Linked DNA regions of Homo sapiens. The protein of the gene in region 1 purifies or fractionates together with the protein of each later gene. This does not show direct contact. Each region holds a gene or a part of one and is shown on either strand. Other genes may lie near its edges.

Region 1 (5,108 bases):
GGCTCTAAAGCCGGCCCAAGGGACCTAAAGAATTTAGCATCTAAACCACAAGTAGCAAGCAGGAGAAAGAGCTTTGTTATTGTGCCTGCCCACCCCACACTCACTCCTAGCAGCATCAAGCTCAGTCCCCTGATCACTTGCCTGGGATGCAGAAGTAAGCGGCACACAGACATCTGAGTCAAGGTCACCACCACCTTTAGCTGAGACCACCAAGTGAGTGCTAGCCACTTGGAAGAGAGGCCGTGCTTTCTGAAGGGTTGTGCATTTTCAACTCTGGAGAAGCAGGGCTGCTCTGGAAGTGGGCAGTGGGAATCCAGCACCCATGTGACCTTAGCTATGCCTTGTCAGAAAAGGGCAGGGTGAGGAAGAAGAGAAGATTCAAAAGGAAGGTGCAACTGGGACCCTCCTCAAGCTTCCATATCCCTGTCCTCCTTCTCTGCTTAGAATTTGGGCCCAGTCGGTTGTTTTGGTCTTGAGTAGGCAGAACTGTCTCAAAGAGACAGAGGAATCTGGCATGGGCTGAATATGAGCCAAAGCTTCTAGAAAGAGTGAGCAGAACCTCTTGACTCAGTTTCCAGCTCAATAATAGGCTGATTTTAACTAAGGAGATCAACCTTCTGGTCCTACACTTTGCCCTCTCCTTATCAGCGACTCAGACCCTCAGTACAGAGTCCTCCATTTCACTTGTGGAAAGATCCCTGAGGGTGCATTAGTCAGCAGTCATCCTTTGGTAACAAAATAGTAAAACACTTTTCACTAATTGATATATATAGGGTACATGTATACACATGCATATATTGTCTGCTGCTAGTGAATTGTTCTGACATCTTTTTCTGAAGTCATGTCTGCTCATATTGTTTTCTAATAGTTTTGGATTAACCACAAAAACAGAAGATATTTGCATTGAGATAAATTTTGAGCTCTCTAGCCCTGTTACCTGTTTAATTGGCTACTGTATCAGTTTCTAGCTTCACCATATGGACACATCACATTTTACACGCATAGGACTGTATCCCAATAACTCCACAGGATTGTGCGATTACTGCGGGTTGTCAGATTTGAACCAACTTCTACTTAGATTGTCTTTTGCTTTTATGCAGTGAACAGAATTGGAAAATCAAGATCTCTGATGTTGTGCTTGATCTTTTAGAAGGGGATGGCTATCAATTCAAGCATATTGATATCAGTCCAAGTGCTTGTAAAGGACTGATAATAGACTCATCAGGCCTGGTGTTCTTCTTGCAAGGAGAGTAAATGATCAGAGCTGAGGCGTTTATCCTTCTCTCTGGCGCTAGATATTTATATACATTTGATCTGATTTGAAGACACACTTAAGAACTTATGAAGGTTTCCATTTTGCATTTGCATACTTATAAGAATACTGGAAAGATACCATCTGAGGATAGATATATAATTACATTTAATAACAAGTTTTAAAAAACCTGTTTACAATGAACTATTACATTGGCCAGCAAAGATGCCCTAAATAATTCACTTTGGACCCAAAAATTATCTCCTTTCTCTCTTATTCTAGGATTAAATTATATTCCAATTTATTATTAACAGTAATGAGGACATTTAGAAATGGATATGAACATCTGTCCCACCTTTATTTTAAATAAATCATCATAATTTAAATTGGAGAAGTGTGAACTCATAAAACTGCATTCGAATGTGTAATTTTCCCCTAAAGGGCTTCAGGGGGAAGAAAAACATACTTACTCCAACTCCAGAGTATATGAATTTTTGAGATTATGAAGCAAAATAAAAATACATTTATTATCTTTCTTCTCACTACAAATCTAACAGTAGCAACTTCTATAAATATAGGAGAGCACACAATGTCTTAAATATTTTCTGTGTATAAAACTCATGCACATGACTCTTTATGTATCTATGCATATGTCCCCTCGGTAATGACATCTAACACTGAATAAATTCCAAAGGAAACTTTATCTGTAGATTTCCTCTTTCAATGGCTAATGTTTTTACAGAAAATTGCATTAGGTAAACATCTAATTTCTCATGCATCTCAGATAAATATTTCTAAAGAAGTGACTACCTTTATTTTTTCAGTTACTATGCTAACAGTCTGAGCCCATATTATCATTTAGTCTGACAGTCCATCACATTACCTTCCTGGTCCTGTTTACATGGTGAGCATTTCTATATTTTGCTCAAGACTTGAGCTCTTCCTTTTTCACCCTCATCTTCTCTAGGCCTTGCCCTCCTAAACTCTCACCTTCCAGGAAGGGCTGTGTTTCTATGCACCTGGGCCGAGGCTAGTCTTTAAGGCAACTCTCAACTTGCTGATAATAAGGTTGGCTTCATACAAAAGCAAAAGTGAGGTAATAGGAGAGTGAAGAATAAATGGGAGAGATTTATCTGATAGATAAACGGGCTCTCCCAGAAAGTGGCAGAAAGAGGTAGACTCAAGTACTGAAAGCAGAAAGAATCGTTGGTGGGAGGGCGGTATGGTGTGAATCCTGACCCAAAAGCCAGCTCTTAACGGAAGGAACTTAGTGGCCTCTTTCTCTGGGGCCAAGTCGCTGTCTTCGGTCCTGAAGTCTCGTCCCTGTTCCACCACTCCGCGACTGGCGGAAGTTCCCCTAGCGAGAGCCCCGCAGGCCTGCGGGGTCTGCCAAACCCGGCTCTCTAAGCTTCACCTGCTTGGAGAAGGACGTTTCCCCCTTGTCCGCTTTCTTGGGGTCCGGGACTGGCCCTCTTGAAGTAGCCTGGGACGTCCCAGCCCCTTCTCGATCTGGCCCTGCTCATGCCCAAGGCCCTCGCGTTTTGCAGGCCCAGGCTCGGGGCTCCAGGGCCTGCGGCCGGGCAAGGTCGCGCCTCCACACCGTTTCCCCGCCCGGGTGCCGGCTCCGGGTCTCCAGCCTAAAGGCCCTGGGGACCGCTGACCTCCTGCTCTCTGTTCCAGGGAGGCTGTCCGGTGGACAAGACGCACAGAAACCAGTGCAGGGCGTGTCGGCTGAAGAAGTGTTTGGAAGTCAACATGAACAAAGACGGTAATCAGTGCATCCCTTTATTCCAATGTTGATTGAGTAGTAAGTAAATTATATGTACAGAAAATACATGGCACTCCTATGCATGTAAATCAACCCCGGAGCGCTTCTTTCCAGATGCTGGGAATTGGCCTCGGGCTTTCAGTCGTATCCTTCCCGTCTTTCAGCAGGAGCCGCTGGCGACCCCTAGAATTCCCCAGGGCAAGACCCATGCCCACATCAGGAACTTGCGCCCCACAGTCATCTCCACACAGGCAGCGCTTGGGGGGACCCCACTCTCCAGGGGACCGGCGCGCATTTTCTGCCTCCGGTCCTAATCCCTCTTTGCAGCCCTTCGTGGCCACCCTTAAGCCTGCTAGCCTGCCCCAGGATCTTAAAATCTGGATAGTCTCACGGGGAGGAGATCATACAGGCTGGAAGTTCGCGGTGTGTTGAAAAAGGGAGGGCAGAGACGCGAAAACGCGGAATTTCCAGCCCGTGTGCAAATTCTCCAAGATGCCAAAATCAGTACGGCCATTGGGCCGATGTGAGTCCAGGGCCTTCTCTCTGTTCTACAGAAAAGAGGGAAAGGGGGCTGGAGAGGCAGGGTAACGCCCGTGGGTGCCTCGGACACCCAGCTCTCCCAAGGCTCTTAAGCGCGCAACAGCAAGAACCAGGACGTCAGAGTGCTTCCTGGGCCTGGAGCACGGTCCGAGCTGCGTCCCCCGCTGCAGCCTGTCGAGGGCGCCCCAGGCCCAGGCAGGGGGCGAGGGTAATGGGCTGGAGGACACCGTGGGGCCTGGGAACAGGGTGCGAGTGGGTTTTGCTGTGAGGCGGCCCGGGCCGGGTGGCAGCTCCAGGAGGAGAGAGAGCCCCTTCCTCTGCGGCGCAGGAAGCCGGAGGGAGCGTCCAACCTGTTGAACTTGTGTATTGACAAGTTGTCAAGCTCGGCAGGCCGAAGATTGCCCTGAATTAATTTGTTTGTTTAAACTGTTGGTGGTAATTGTCACATCTCCCCTGCCTTTCTCCAGCATACTCGGAGACGGGTTCTCCCTCGTTCCATTCCCTAGCAATCCCGGGGCTCGGGTCCTTTCCTCCTGCGGCCCTCGGAGGCCAAAAGCTATTTCTGTGGGGGCGGGGCCTGCGGGTAGGGAGGCTTGTTCTTGGACGGAGCTGGAAAAGTCTGCGCAGAAACGAGGTGTCTGGCGTGCGCGACGCTCCCTCTCTTTTGGATGGGGGCGAGGATACCTGGCTACTCCAGCCCAGAGGGTCTCTGGTTTCCCTGCGAACCCCCTTCCCTGGTGGGGAGGAGCCCTGGACCGAAGGAGAACACACCTGGTCTTACTTGAGGCTCTGCCATTATCGTGGCACTTTGAGCACGGGCCCCTCTTCTAAGCCTCAGCTTCCGAATCTATTCAGTGTAGTGGTTAGACGATCTCAGAATCCCTTCCTCCCTCAGATTCCCTCTCCCTTCTTCTTTTCACCTCTTGGGCGATTTTGCCCGCCCAGACTTGACATTGGGGCGGGGCTGGGGGGAGAGCCGCAGCGGCTGTGTCTCGACGTCTCTAATCGCCGGCATGCGTTTCTCTGTTTGCCTCTGCAGCCGTGCAGCACGAGCGGGGGCCTCGGACGTCCACCATCCGCAAGCAAGTGGCCCTCTACTTCCGTGGACACAAGGAGGAGAACGGGGCCGCCGCGCACTTTCCCTCGGCGGCGCTCCCTGCGCCGGCCTTCTTCACCGCGGTCACGCAGCTGGAGCCGCACGGCCTGGAGCTGGCCGCGGTGTCCACCACTCCAGAGCGGCAGACCCTCGTGAGCCTGGCTCAGCCCACGCCCAAGGTCAGCGGCCTTGCTGGGCCCAAAGAGACTCGTGCCAGCGAATGGAGAGGGACGCACCCAGTTCTTCTGAGCTGTGTGATTGGGGTCAGGCAAACTGGGGAGAGAACTCCAGGGTGCTTGGCGGGTCTCTGCATGGAGCTCCAGCCCTTCTGCTCTCCCTTGTTCAGCCAGGGGTGCTCAAACTTGAGTGTACAGTAGAGTCAACCTCCGAGTGGCTACAAGTGTGCACTCCGGATCTTATCCCCCCAGAAATTTCATTTCAGCAAGTTTGGG
Region 2 (4,501 bases), on another chromosome or scaffold:
TATAAAACCTTTAAAGGTAGTACCAGTCAGAGCCCCCAAAATCTCATTTCCATTGTCAAATCTCCAAAGTTTGTTCTGTTCCTAGTCTACTCTGAACTGTACTTTACCAGCCACTGTCCTCCAGCCTAAACCACAGAGAAGACTTTATAATGGTTTGGTCAGTAAAAGTATTCAGATTTACATTAAAAGCACTTCTTAAAAAGCAGTGGTTGTTGATACAACTCATTTTGTATGAAATGTGATTTGTATAATCGACCAAATCAACATATATATGTTGAAATCTAACTTGTAGAAGCACACTCAGCACTTGAAACCCGCAGGTCAGTAGAAGACATGGTGCCAGGCCTCGAGGTCAGGCCAGTCAGGAGAGACACAGCTCACATACCTGAAGACACCAGAGGGTATAAATTAGTAAATTGATTCTGCATGGACTAATTTGCCGTAAGAATTCAGAAGTTAGTGAAAGCACTTTAGGCTTGTCTGTTGATTGCTATTAGAGTCTGTAGATACAGGACAAAGGGTTATCGGTAACTTGGAAAATACATCTGTAAAGGGGCAAAGGCCAGTTGAGTGGTAGTGAATTTGCTGCCAGCAGATAATATTCATTTATCTAATTCTATTCAATGTCTCTGAAAAGAGCGGTATATTGTAATCATATGAATCCTTTTTACTTGACATATTATAAATGTGGTATATCTTTAATATGAGATTGATAAATACTAGACTAGATGATCTCGTTCCTTAATTATTGTCTCATCCATTAGAGCCCTTTGTGTCGAAGTAGGTAAGACCTGACTTAGGAATTAGACTCCCTAGGTTTGAGTCCCAACTCACCACCAAGAGGCTCACTACTAACTTGGGCAACTTGCCTAGCTGCTGTTTGCTTCAATTTCTTTATTTTTCTTTCTTTTTTTTTTGGTAGAGACAGGGTCTTTCTATGTTGCCCAGGCAAGTCTCAAAACTCCTGGCCTCAAGTGATCCTCCCTAAGTGTTAGGATTACAGGCCTGAGACACCATACTGAGCCATGCCTTAATTTCTTCATCTGTAATGTGGAAATACTTAACTCCTAGGTTTGTTTTAAAGATTAAATGAGCTAATATGTAAAGTTCTCTTTTTTCTTTTTTTTTTCTCTCTCTTTTTTTTTTTGGCTGGAGTGCAGTGGCGTGATCATAGCTCATTGCAGCCTCAAACTCCTGGCCTTAAGTGATCCTGCTGGTCTCAGCTTCCCAAAGTGCTGTGATTACAGGCATGAGCCATCACACCTGGCCTAATATGTAAAGTTCTTAAATAGTGCCTAGCACATAGCAAACACTTTGTAAAATGTCAGCTACTTATGTAAGTGCTTCTGTTTTAGAAACAAATTTCATCCCACCTATTATCCTAAAATGCATTAGCTTCAGCTTTCTATTATTCACCTGTCTTCTTAACCTATATTTGGAGGATAAAGTACACTTATCGTTACTTTTTTTTTTTTTTTTTTTTTTTTTTGAGATAGAGTCTTGCTCTGTTGCCCAGGCTGGAGTGCGATGGCGCAGTCTCGGCTCACTGCAACCTCCACCTTCTGGATTCAAGCAATTCTCCTGCCTCAGCCTCCCAAATTGATGGGATTACAGGCATGCATCACCACGCCTGGCTAATTTTTGTATTTTTAGTAGAGACTGGGTTTCACCATGTTGGCCAGGCTGGTCTCAAACTCCTGACCTCAAGTGATCCGCTCACCTAAGCCTCCCAAAGTGTTGGGATTACAGGCGTGAGCCACCGTGCCCGACCACTTATCTTTACTCTTAAGGATTTTTTCTCTTAGTACAAGTTAAAGAATTCATGCAGTGAATCTTTGAAATTAGTTGAAAAATAATTTGGATAATATTTTATAATATTCACAGTAAAGTTATAAATGTATTAAAAGCAAATAACTAATAAAGTCTAGGAAACTTTGGTTGTAAAATTGCCTATCTTGTTGGCTCTCAGCATTTCTCTGCAGCAGCACCTATGTTGAAGAGCCTGTTAGACACTCATCAATTCATGTAAAGAAACCAGCAGCCCATGGTCAGTAGTGGGGGCTCCTAGCTACCTTCCTTCCCTCATGTTCAGCCTGTCGTTGTTATTCTCAGTCTTTTGCCACCTGGAGTTCGCCATCTAGATAGGAAGAGCAGGCATATAAATGGGAAAAAATAACCTTGATACCAGTGTCATGTGATTCTTACAGGGCTCTAGAGAAGGAAAAGTTCACTTTCACTTTGAGTGGTGAAAGAAAAATCAGAGAGTAGGATTAAGCTTGAACCTCAAATGATTGGATAGGATTACAGTAAATAAAGAGGAAGCCTTTCCAAATAAAGGGGAAGCCTCACGTAGCACAGAAGAAAGAGGCCTGGCTTGTTTCAGGGGCCCATTTTGCAAGGGCCAGGCCAGTCTAGCTGACTTTCCCAGAGGGGAAAGTTGGGAGAGATGGGTTGGCGCCAAATTGTGAAATTTGGAGCATTCTGAAGGCCAGGTTGAAGCCCTGACATTGTTGCCACCTTACCTGGCTAGATCTGTACAAGCTGAAACGAAAAGAACCCACACAGCAGAGATTGCAAGTAGGCAGCCCTGTGGCACTGATGGGCTTGCAAAGGCGTTTTGTTAGGTCTGCGAAGTGTGTGTGTGCATGTGCATAGGTGTGTGTTAATGCCAACATTCAAAAATTGGGGAAAGTGGCTTCTGGCTTCTCTTAAAAATGGCTATAGTGGGTCTATGTTCCAGGTAGCAATAGGTGGTTGGCCCCAGTAGCACCTGTTTATTTAGACAGGACAGACACTCTCTGGTTTGCCACAGTCCCCATGAAGCCCACTTCTTCATGTGCATGGCCCACCTGGCTCCTATGGGCATTTGAATTTGCAGCCTCTGAAATAAAGGTAAGAACCAGAATGTTCAGCACCTGGCTAAGTAGTAGAGGCTCACTGTGCTTACGTACCGTGTGGCGTAGTACTTACGGTAAGGACCTATGGGGTATGTGTATGTGGTAAGGGGAACTGCAGCTGGAAATACAAGGGGAGGGGGGCGCTTGTGCTGGTTATTCCCTTCCAAACAAGCAGTCTGTCCTGCTCCAAACTAGTGTCCTCATCAGAAACTCTTTACTTCAACCTTCTTTTCATTGTCCTCCTCATCATCTTTCTTTATTAACCTAGCTTAGTGCAGGTCCTGGACAAATAACCAGGTACCTGCTTTTAGCTATAAGGAATGAGCCCAGAAGCCTCAGCTCACCATCCCAGCTGGGGGCAGATGGCAGCACCCCCGCTGTCAAATAGTTCAGTTCCTTAAAAGTAGTTTGATACTTAATTCACAGACTCTTTCAGAGCAGACTTTTGTAAAGGAAACTCACTAAAGGTAGAACTGAATTATCCTATCAGTCTGTTTCATAGGTGGTACTTTAGAGTTCTGGAAAAGTGTTTTTGACCTGATGAGTTTCCGTAAGATATCCCAAAACAAAGAAAGATTTTCCTAATAGTTTGGACTTTTTCTATTTTCCTGTGGACTCTGAGAAGCCTCAGGACCATGTTTATTCAGCACTGAAACAAGTAAAATGAAGAGAATTGTGGGCCTTACTTAATCAAAGACTATTCACATTTTCACCTTAATTTAGGAATAATATTCCTAGAAATACATGTTGTTATGACGATAAGTAGTATTTTTTCACCAGCACTAAAAGTTATAGTTAAAATATTTTGCTGTATCCCAGCTACTTGGGAGGCTGAGGCAGGAGAATCGCTTGAACCTGGGAGGCGGAGGTTGCAATGAGCCAAGATTGTGCCATTGCACTCCAGCCTGGGCATCAAGAGCAAGACTCCGTCTCAAAAAAAAAAAAAAATTTGCTGTAAGCGAAGACTGAAATAGCTTCTATAGGAGAGCTTTAGAATGAAGTCATTTAGAGGAGCAGGCGAATCCTAACCGCATCTCTCTCTTTAGCTGGACTGAACCCAAACATGAATGTCAACAGCATGGACATGACCGGTGGCTTGTCGGTGAAGGACCCATCCCAGTCCCAGTCACGCCTCCCCCAGTGGACGCACCCCAACTCCATGGATAACTTGCCCAGTGCCGCTTCCCCCCTGGAGCAGAACCCTAGCAAGCATGGTACGTCTGAGCTAGGATGCCTGTGGTGGGATCACTGCTGGCTTATTAATCGATCGTCCTGTTGTATAGCATGGCCATTCTATACTTTTCTAAGAATTGAGCACTGAAAGTTGGATTTAAAATAACCCATTCCATTATAGTGCATATAAGATCTCAGCTAGTCACTGATCAAACTTCTTAAAACCCAACCATTAGATCTTAGCTACAAACTTAGAAATAATTTGAAAACCCCAGAGCAGCAAAGAATCTAGGTCATAGCCTGTGTACTTTTTTTATGTATCTATATTCATCAACAAAAACTTGAGTCTGCTGAAATGTTTTCAATAAAATGGTAAAACATAAATAGAAAATCAAATATACAGTATGTATGGGAACTGCAGCTGTAAATAC
Region 3 (4,501 bases), on another chromosome or scaffold:
TGGCAGGGAGAGGGTCTTTTCCCACCGCCTCATCTCCCCAGACTGCTCCTCGCTCCCACCCCCTTGACCTTAGAGGAATTCAGGACCAGTGAGGGAGAGCCTGTCCTTGCAAGGTCATTTCTTCAAGACTGAAGAGCCACCAGCTGTGTGATCCCACTCTCTGGCACCTCCTCCACTCTCGACAACAATCCTGGGGGCCTCCCTCCATCCTGGCTTCTAAGTGGCTAACAACAACCCACTCCCTCTGCCAGGGCCCCGGGCTTCCGGCTCCACTACTTCAGGCAGCCAGAAATGAGCACACAACCCAGGCACTTCTGCAAAGATGTTTAATGCACTTAGATTACAGAGAGGAAGAGGGGGCAAGAAGGAAACGACATCTAAGTGAGTCACCCAAAAATTCTTACAAAAGTCCCAGGCTGGCTGCAGCCCCAGGAACCGAGTCGCCACTGACATTAAAAACTAATATAAAATTTTACAAAAATCTGCTTGTCGCAGCATTCAGGTACTTGTACAAAAGGAGGGGTCTCCCTACAGGGCTCCTGACTTGTAACAGGGACCCAGGCACCTCACCTGGCATGGATGTCCTAGAAGCCAGAAAGGGAAGACCAGACACAAAAATACAGTAAAGGAAATTCTCTACTGGTCAGCCCCATAGGGGCACCGACCTTCAGGTTTTCTCCCTGCTTGCAACTCAATCCGAAACCCCAGTCCCAAGACCCTGTGTCTATTTTTAAAAATGCTCTAGCCCTTTTAGACTCTCCCCTTGGCTTCTCCAGTCCCTGCCTTGGAGCACTGCCCTTGGAAGAGAAAGATACGGGCAGGAAGAGGCACCAGCTCCCCACACAGGCCTGAGACCTCGCACAAGCCTCCCAAACCCCCCTCAGAATTGCAGCTGAGTCTGCAGTCCTCCTGCAGCCCACACTGAGCCAGCAGAGCCACAGGAGCCTGCCTTATATAGCAGGCAAAGAGGAAAGGGAAAGGCCCTTCTCAGAAGCTCTAGCACCAGGGACCTGGAGGGGTGGGTACAACTAGGCAAGTCTCCAAGTAGCTTGCAGAAGAGGCAGATTTAGGGAGGGAGGCCCCTTACCTCCTCCACCCACTACAAGGTCAGGGGCTCCCTCAGAGCTGCAGGGAGGGAAAGAAAGGGTACATTCACCAAGCATCCTGTGCCAGAAGCTGTGCTGGACAGGGTCCAAGGTCAGCTTGGCTTGATCTTCTTTAAGGGTCCTCTCTCACCAGCCAGCAGCCCAAGAAACCTCTGGGAGGCACCAATGCCCATAGGAAAGGAGGCCTGGTGAGAAATGTGTGATACCCTGTCCTGCCCTCAGAGCCAGTGAGATGGAGCCTGGCCCCTGCAGGATCTTGGGTGAGCGTGAGGCTCCTGACATATTGCAGGTACGAAGGGGCCACAGGCTTCATGTGCTCATCATCTCGGAGCTCACCCACTTCCTCCTGCCTTACCCTGCTCCCCCAGAACAGGGCCACCATGCTGGCTGGTGTCTACCTTCAGTCCACAAAGACCCTCCAGGTCTGGGGCAGGTTGCTGACCAGGTGCTTCACAAACTAATGACAAAGCTTAGCTCAGAAAATGCCCCATCCCCACCCAACCAACGATGGAGGCACCCAGCAGATGGAAGTACGGCGAACTGCAGCAGGGAGCCCTCAGGCAGGTCCCGAGCAAGAGAGAGTTCAGGGAGAGGCTGGTCATGGTGGCAAGGAATGGAGGCGAACTGATGGCACCTCTCTGCCTGTGAAATGTCAGAAACAAGAGCTTCACAGGCAGGGCTGCTGTGGTGGGGGAAGGCCAGTAGGGCTCCCTCTGGTAAGTCCTCAGGGCAGTAGAGGCACAGCTGCCGACATCAGGTCCCGAGTGGCTTGCATCTTGGCTGGCGGGGATCTGCAGCCAGTCTCTCCCAAATACTCCAGGCTGATATGCCTTTTAACTCTGAGCTTGATGGAATTAACCAGATAGCCCTGGGGATGTGTAGAGGAGGCCAGGCCTAGTGGCTCCATGGAGGTCCAACTCCTGCTCCCTGGAGAACCCAGCTGGTGCCCTCATACCCCTGGGGGCAGCTCTTTGGCTGGATCTCTCATCAGTGGAGTCCTGCACCCTGTGGGCACTCCTGTGGCATCCCTGCTGGTGCCTGTGTGTGCAGCAGAGGCAGATGGGAGCAATGAGGAGCCCTGCATTGTCATGACTTTGCTTTGAAGAGGTGTAAAGAGTGATCTTGAAGTATTGTAACAGTCCCATCCCTAGAGTTGGGGGTAAGAAGGCAGGAAAGGGGCTTGCTGGTTCCAGGTCAGGCGTGGGAGATAACCCGAGAGGAACTCCAAAACCATGGGCTAGAGATAGGCTGGCTTCTGGAAGGCAAACTGTGAGATCTGCAGTACTGGGGGTGAGGGGCTGAGGACCACGAGAGGCCAGGATGCCAGAAAGGAGAGGGATTAGGAGTGGAGAATGAAAGATAGGGCATGAATGGATACAGGGAGGATGGGAGGGCAGCAGAGAGCAGTGTTAGCAAAACCAAAGTGAAAGAGATGTTAAGAGGTGGATTTTTCAATTTTAGTAAGGCAGCCCTACAGCCTGAAGGCTGGGAGGCCCAGGGACTGAGGAAATGGGACAGGACTGGTTACAGAGCTGGAGACCCAGGCCCTGAATGACAGTGGGGATGGTGTGTGATGTGCTGAACCTCACCCTCTCCCAGGTAGGCCTGGTTGGGTGGAAAAGGCCTAGAAGATGAGGCTGGGGTCACCAAGTCTTTGAGACCCATTCACTTGGAAAACAGTAGCACCCCTCCCTGGCCCCAGCTAAACTAGGCTCAAAGCTGCACAAGGGAGTGTCTCTACTCTCCCCCTGCCCCGGGCTCCACCAGGCCCAGCTGGGAAGAAAAGCCTCTCTGTGCAGCCGGCTCCTCCAGGGCTCTGGGCTGGCAGGCGAACACCAAGCACCTTCTCTGGTGGCAGCCCAGGGAGAGATACAGCCCTAGGCCTCTGTCAGAGAATGCGAAAGTTCAACGGGGAATGAAGTTCTGTTTAAAAAACATTATATACATGGCTTCTGGACATCTTTGCAGAGCAATAAAATACCACCCGGTTTCTACAAAATAAAATAAGGAAGAAGAAAACCAAACATGATCAGAGGAATTGTTCCGCGGCCAGAGGAGCTTGAGTAGCAAAGGCTTCCAGAGATGAGCTGGGAAGTGCATCCACTCGCTCTGCATCTGGCTGTCCGCCTCCCTCCTGCTGGGCTGTGCGGCAGGGGGTAGGTGAGAAAGAGGGCTGTCTCCACCTAGGGGCACAGCCAGGGTCCAGAGTCAAACCTCAAACCAGAATCTGTGCAGGCTGCAGGCAGGGAGGGTCCGCATTTGCCCACTCACTGGCCTGATGGGTCACAAGGCTTAGCCAGCGGCGGGGTGCGGCCCCTGAGCTGGAGGTGAGGTGGAGGGCCTGTGGCCTGTGCATGGCACCCCACTGGGCTGCGGGGTGGCACTGCGCAGTCTTCCTCACACTTGTCCTTTTATTTGTGGAGATCTCGTTGACACAACTGTTACACTGGAAGTCACTGGGGAGCAGCTGGGCTCCCTGCTGGCCACTGCAGGGCCCAGCCCAGGCTAGTGTAGCGGACTGTCGAACACCACGTCAGGCAGGATGGAGACCTTCAGCTTCTTTTCAGGCCAGCTGTACTCTTTGGGAAGTTTGAACTGTGGAGGGAGCAAGCACAGACCAGGAGTGTGAGTGGTTAGCAGAATACACCGTGGTCTTTCCAGAGATTGCCCAGGCCTGTCCCCGGGGAGCTAGGGATAGGACAGGCCGCGGGAGGCGTGGCTTCATTCTCAAATGCTAGACCCAGGTGGCAGGCTGGGCTCAAACGGCTGGAGTTGGTGACCCCTTCTTTCCCCACGGCCTGTCAATAATGAGGCAGGTTGGAGGAGGGCGTTTTCTCCTCCTTTCTCCACTAAGCTGACCTCCCTCTTGCTCACTTCCTTGGTTCTGCCTCTGGCCACAGGCATGTAAAGAATCTGCTCCCTGAGGCCCTGGGGCTGGAGGATGGGGGCTGGGGGAGGGTCTGGAGGCTATGGGGAAGTGGCCTGAGCTCTGTCACTGCCATGGCCTCTCTTTCAGAGGCTAGTGCAGGAAGAACCCTGGAACCTGTCCTCTGTATACTTGGCCAAAGGCTCCAAAGGGAAGGAGGCCCCAGTTCGGCCCCAAAGTCAGAACCACACTTGCGGCCTTGGTGGGAGCAGAAGAGTGGGACAAGTGTGGTTTGAGGTGATCCCTTGGGCCTGAGAGGGGCCAATCCCCACCCTGCTCCCTGTATTCATTCGCACCACTTCCCAGGGTTACCAGCCTCAGAGTGGTCCCAGTGGTGGCCAAGGAGAGCCAAATGTCTCCCACCCCATCCCAGGATACACTGATTTGCCTACAGTTCTGTTTCTCCCATTCACCTGGGAGTTTCTGGTAGGGGAAGGGGAAGAGGCTGATGCCTCTTATTCCCTCTTTA
Region 4 (5,044 bases), on another chromosome or scaffold:
AATGTGTATCTCTGTGGACATGACTGAATAAGAGGCAATTTTGGTATTATTCACCATTACTGAATTTCAGTACTTGACGGCGTATAACAAGGGAAGCATTACGGTTAAAGCTGAAGCCCCTGAATTTTAAAGTCAATGACTTAATAGAGAAAATCCCAAACTTCAACTGTTGATAGTAAATGCAAATGTTAATACAACTACATTATTTAGGAACTGACTGACACTTTAGTCTACAAATGTAACAGTCATGATTAAGGGACAACTATTTTTCAAACTGTTATTTCTTAGCTTTTAAGGAATTATAACTATTAAGGAGAAAGACCTAGTGGTGGGAGGCGGAGGGTGTGGTGAGCTGAGATCTCAGCACTGCACTCCAGCCTGAGCGACAGAGGGAGACTCCATCTCAAACAAAGGAACAAAAAACAACAAAACAAACAAAACCTGGTGGCTTCATTACCACACCCACTACTTGTTGGAGAAAACTTCCCTGACTCCCCCAGGCAAAGCTGAAATCATTCCTCTACTCCTATAGGCCAACTTTCTCACTGTTCTTAATCTAATTGTATTGAACCTATCTGTATATATGTTTGAATTTCACACATGACTCTAAGGCCTTTGATAGCAAAGAATATTTTTTGTTGAACTCAAACTTCTAACAATTCACATAAAATAAGGGAAAGAATTTATCCCTAACAGATGTTGTTTAGTAAAACAGCCAGAAGCCACAGAAAATACACTTTAAGAATTACCAAATTAGGAAAACCCTAACTCAGAGACTTACTCGGGAAAGCAATTTTCTGAGGTTTTAATTTCCGCATGTGGCATTCCTAAGCTGGAATCATCCTATCACTAAGACAATGTTAGGGACACAGAAAACAGAGAATAGGAAGAAAAATTAACTGCCATACTAGACAGAAAAACAAATTATCAAGACTTTATTTCCGCTAATCAAAGCCTTGTCTCTCAAGTATCAGAGTGATTCTCAAGGGGAAGGAGGGCTGTGGTCCCCTGGTGGAAGGGGGGACATGTGGAAATTTGTGATACTAGTCATGGTTATCACAAACTTTGCAGAAGCCAGGGAAGAAAAGAGTCTGTCATGTACAGGACAGTCTGATACAATGAGGAAATGTCCTTCGCTCTGACTTTTGAATAAAAGGACAAATCTATTTACAAATAGCTAGGCACCTAATTTAACTCTTAAAACACATCAACACAAAGTCATCTTTGCACAGTTTTAATATATATTAAAATTTTCAGGAACTTAGCAGTATATAAATTCAAGGGGGATTTTGTTAAAAGTCATCAGATATGTGAACACAGGCACCCAACACTATATACTTTTTCCTCCTTCACTTTTGTTTTTCAGATACCATCCTAAATAGGTATCAGGGCAAGGTGGTAGCCTCACTTCAGTTCTTTAATACTATATGTTCAATGTTTTGTCCCTTATTAGTAATGCATAGTTCAAAGTGTGGTGCCTGATTTGCACTTGAATAAACAGCATACCCAAGTAATATGGAAGGAGTGGTGTCCAGATCTGTTCAGAGCCACTCTGCGTGATTTCCCCCTCTAGCCTGTCAAGTGCAGGCAGTACTGGTTACAGAAAACAAGATAGTTGCTTGTGTTTCCAAATGTTATGACTACTTTGTATATCCTTTAATTTCTCAAATCCATCCTCTCTAATCATTTTCTCTTGGACAATTATAACATTATCTTAATTCCTCTCCTTGTCCACTTTCTCATCCTATTTGGTAGCTAACCATTAAGTAAATGTTGTTTCTTAAACTGCAAATCTGATATGCCAGGGACTGCAGAGAAGTACTAGTTTCTCAAAAGTGTGCCAAGTCTCAGCGTTAAAGGGACTGAGAGGACGGAGCACTAACCCTGCTTAAGAAAACAGAAACACAAAAGGAAAAACAACAACAACCCCACCTTACCCCCAAAATAACAAAAACTGGCAATGGCAGGAAGGGAAAAGCAAAATGGCCATCCTCTCTGAGTCATCTTTGACCCCCTGCCCTCCTCTCCAATGGCATCCAATGCCTTTCCCCTGACATAAACCTTATTCTACTTATATAATAGATACAGTTCTCTGGGCAAAGCATACCAGTTCACATCCAGTATCCGTTTGTTTATGCCACTCTCTTTGCCTGGAATGTTACCATGTTAAAGTACCCTCTTCAATCAAGTTGTTCTCAAAGGTCCCAAGATCCAAATTCTACACTCCTTATCTTATTAGATTTCTGTCAAATTTTAACACTTTACTATTTATTGGCTTGTATTTGTATCTCTCCTACAGCTTAAAGCTCCTTGAAACAGAGATTTTATTTTTTGTTTTTGTATCTCAAGTGTTCGGTATGTAATATAAACATACAAGAAGTGTATATTGGTGCTTGGAAGAATCTGCAGATTCTAGACATGGGTGGAGGTCCAGGATCCCTTAAGAAACTGATAAAAACTTCCGATGCAGTGCCCAAGGAACTTCACATAGGAATTCCTGAAGGGCAATCATGAATCCCTAGAGAATCCATTCCCTCTAGTTTTAGAACCCCGCTTTTAAACCAAAGTATAGTCCAGAGGAATACTCAAGCACATGCCCGCGCCCCCCGCCCCACACCTCTGTAATTCTAAGTTTTCAAGTCACTTTTGAATACCGTAATATAAATGCATACGTTTTGGTTTTTTCTCTCCCCAAAGCAACAGGCTCACTAGTTCGACTGAATAAATCTTCTTAAAAACAACAAAATCCCGCTAAACTAATGGCATTTTCATAATCCCCAGATCAGGTCCAAGAGAAGAGAAAATGGGGAAATTACCAGAGCGAAATCCAACAACAAAAAAGGTCCTTCATGTTTTACAAATAGAACGGTTGTACTAATGCTTCGTATGCTATCTTCTATGGAATGAGAATCTACTCAAGCACTGCAAACCAGATTTTTATCGTCAAATGAGAAAGCATCATCCGTAAGGGGATAAATGAAACGTTGAATGCCAAACAGAACTGGGCCTACTAGGTCTCCAGATCCCTGGTCTTTTCCTACCCCTACACCAGGGTTCTGGAGCAAGAATCTCCACTCCCTCCGCCCACACCTGAACTTCATCTTTAAGTTTTCTTCTCTATCTATGAAAGGGACCCTGTATAGATCTTTACCAGAGCGGTACTGGCCTTGAGGGACGGATCGCGACTCTAGAAATCCAGGGGGCTAAGCTCTGGGGGGCAATGCGACCTTTGCCATTTGCCCCTTTCTGCTGCGTCGTCAGCACATCCACCTGCTTTACTTCCCGTGCACAAAAGAAGGAACAGGCAAAGAGATCGGTACCTCTCAGAATAGCGAAGGAGCTCCGCATCAAGCTGTTCTCGAATGCCGGTGCGTTTCCTGTTAAGGTAGCGGGGCGACAGCGCGATGTGCCTTTGGTGCGGCCCGGCCACCAGGCATGAGTAGCGACTGTTCACCAGCGCACAAGCAGCGGCATAAGTCGGCAACTCTAGGCAAGGCAGGACGCCAGCCTGCCCTACCAGAGACCCATCAGAAGCCGCCGCTGGCCGCGGCGCCTCTGAGCAACCTGCAGCCATGCTGCTTGTCAAGGTTCCCACGGCGCGCGCCGTTGACGCAAGCACAATCCCATGTCCCCGGCGCTCGTTTTACGCCATCCACCAACGACCACGCCCCTAGGAATTTCCCCTCTTTTCGCTGCATTACGCAGCCCTGACCAGCAGGGGGAACCGCGTTTTCGCGCTTCGAGAACGGGAGCTTAGAGCCTCGGAAATGCATTGAGCACGCAGGAAAGCCAACCGACTGCTCTTTTAAGGGCAGGCAAATGTGTGTTTTCGCACAGAGGCTTATTGGATTAAGTAGGTAGCTTAAAAATGGGGGTTCTCACTTTGATCATTTCCAGTAGTGAGGTGGGTTTGGTAGAATTTTACAGGCTTGGACTGTACAATAAAAAATCAAAATATTTATGGAGTATATTTTATGCAGTACACGGAATCCTAAGCAGGCCTGATAATTGTAATGCAACGCATCTGAAAACGAACCCACTAGTTCTCTCCTGTCCCGCTTCTCTTCTCATTATGCAACTGCTAAATCAGGGAATCATACAGCCAAGCTGTCAGCCTCGGATCCTCTTTTGTATCCCCAAGTATCAAATCAGCCTGAAGACCTGTATTGCCCAAAGTGGAAATATCATTCTATTTGGACACTATTCTCTTTCCCTGCCGCCAAAACCGCAGGACTCCCTGCCTGTGGAAGCCTAGCTCAATGGTCAGGAGGACACTCTGGGGCAGCCAGATCTTCCCTGAAATACATATGATCGTGTTGTGCCCTGTTTAAGCCCTACATAGGCACCCCATTTTCTCTAGGACAACACAAACTCATGAAAATGGCTTATAAGTTACAAGGCCATTTTGTGATCTGCGTGGGCACACAGCCTCTCTCTTCAGCTTCATTTGTCACACTCCCCACCCTAATATTATCATGCTGCTTGATCTACTTTCAGGTCTCTCTTTGTGCAGTCTCACGCTGTTCCTTCCACCAGGGAATATAATAGCATTTTTCACAAGGGTAAATTCTACTCATGTATGAATTTCTAGCTTAGATTTTACATTCTATACCTTTGCAAAGAGTTTTCAAGCACCCCACTCCTCTTTCTCTATAAGGATTAGGTAGTTACCCATCTATGTTGGTTTTTATGTTAATTTTTTATTAACTGTCTTTGCTTGCCTGTTCCATCAATAGATTCCTACACTCACTAAAGTGGGGACCATAATATCTGTATTGTTCACTACAGTAGCCCCCCACAATTTATCCCTCCTCCAAAGAAACGAAACCAAGAAAAACCCAACCAATACATCTTGAATGAATAACCTGATAGTGAGTTAATAAATAATAAGTGATAAAGAGCTCACAGCCTAAGTGGAAGTGGGATCTAAACATAAACATATAACAGGTTATGCTGGATAAGTGCCAAGAGAAATGTATAGCAGTGATGTGAGTATTAACATACTCCCTCATCTCCTAAATACTGCAAAAAGCCTCTTAGCCTC

Evidence for each region. Proteins that work in one complex are often made in the same cells at the same time.
Region 2: the proteins of NR2E1 (region 1) and TNRC6C purify together in Homo sapiens (affinity purification with mass spectrometry; 3 studies listed by BioGRID and IntAct, with this or other methods). This does not show direct contact.
Region 3: the proteins of NR2E1 (region 1) and SUFU purify together in Homo sapiens (affinity purification with mass spectrometry; 3 studies listed by BioGRID and IntAct, with this or other methods). This does not show direct contact.
Region 4: the proteins of NR2E1 (region 1) and POLR1F purify together in Homo sapiens (affinity purification with mass spectrometry, with the first as the bait; one large-scale study listed by BioGRID). This does not show direct contact.

The regions. Positions count from the first base shown.
Region 1 is NC_000006.12:108,171,904-108,177,011, forward strand, and holds part of NR2E1 (nuclear receptor subfamily 2 group E member 1), read left to right. Parts: intron 1-2,932; coding exon 2,933-3,020; intron 3,021-4,599; coding exon 4,600-4,835; intron 4,836-5,108. UniProt on the Homo sapiens protein: Orphan receptor that binds DNA as a monomer to hormone response elements (HRE) containing an extended core motif half-site sequence 5'-AAGGTCA-3' in which the 5' flanking nucleotides participate in determining receptor specificity.
Region 2 is NC_000017.11:78,087,497-78,091,997, forward strand, and holds part of TNRC6C (trinucleotide repeat-containing gene 6C protein), read left to right. Parts: intron 1-3,943; coding exon 3,944-4,111; intron 4,112-4,501. UniProt on the Homo sapiens protein: Plays a role in RNA-mediated gene silencing by micro-RNAs (miRNAs). Required for miRNA-dependent translational repression of complementary mRNAs by argonaute family proteins.
Region 3 is NC_000010.11:102,629,266-102,633,766, reverse strand, and holds the end of SUFU (suppressor of fused homolog), read right to left. Parts: intron 3,702-4,501; coding exon 3,612-3,701; 3' UTR 232-3,611; downstream 1-231. UniProt on the Homo sapiens protein: Negative regulator in the hedgehog/smoothened signaling pathway. Down-regulates GLI1-mediated transactivation of target genes. Down-regulates GLI2-mediated transactivation of target genes. Part of a corepressor complex that acts on DNA-bound GLI1.
Region 4 is NC_000007.14:19,705,443-19,710,486, forward strand, and holds the start of POLR1F (DNA-directed RNA polymerase I subunit RPA43), read right to left. Parts: upstream 3,596-5,044; 5' UTR 3,575-3,595; coding exon 3,321-3,574; intron 1-3,320. UniProt on the Homo sapiens protein: Component of RNA polymerase I (Pol I), a DNA-dependent RNA polymerase which synthesizes ribosomal RNA precursors using the four ribonucleoside triphosphates as substrates.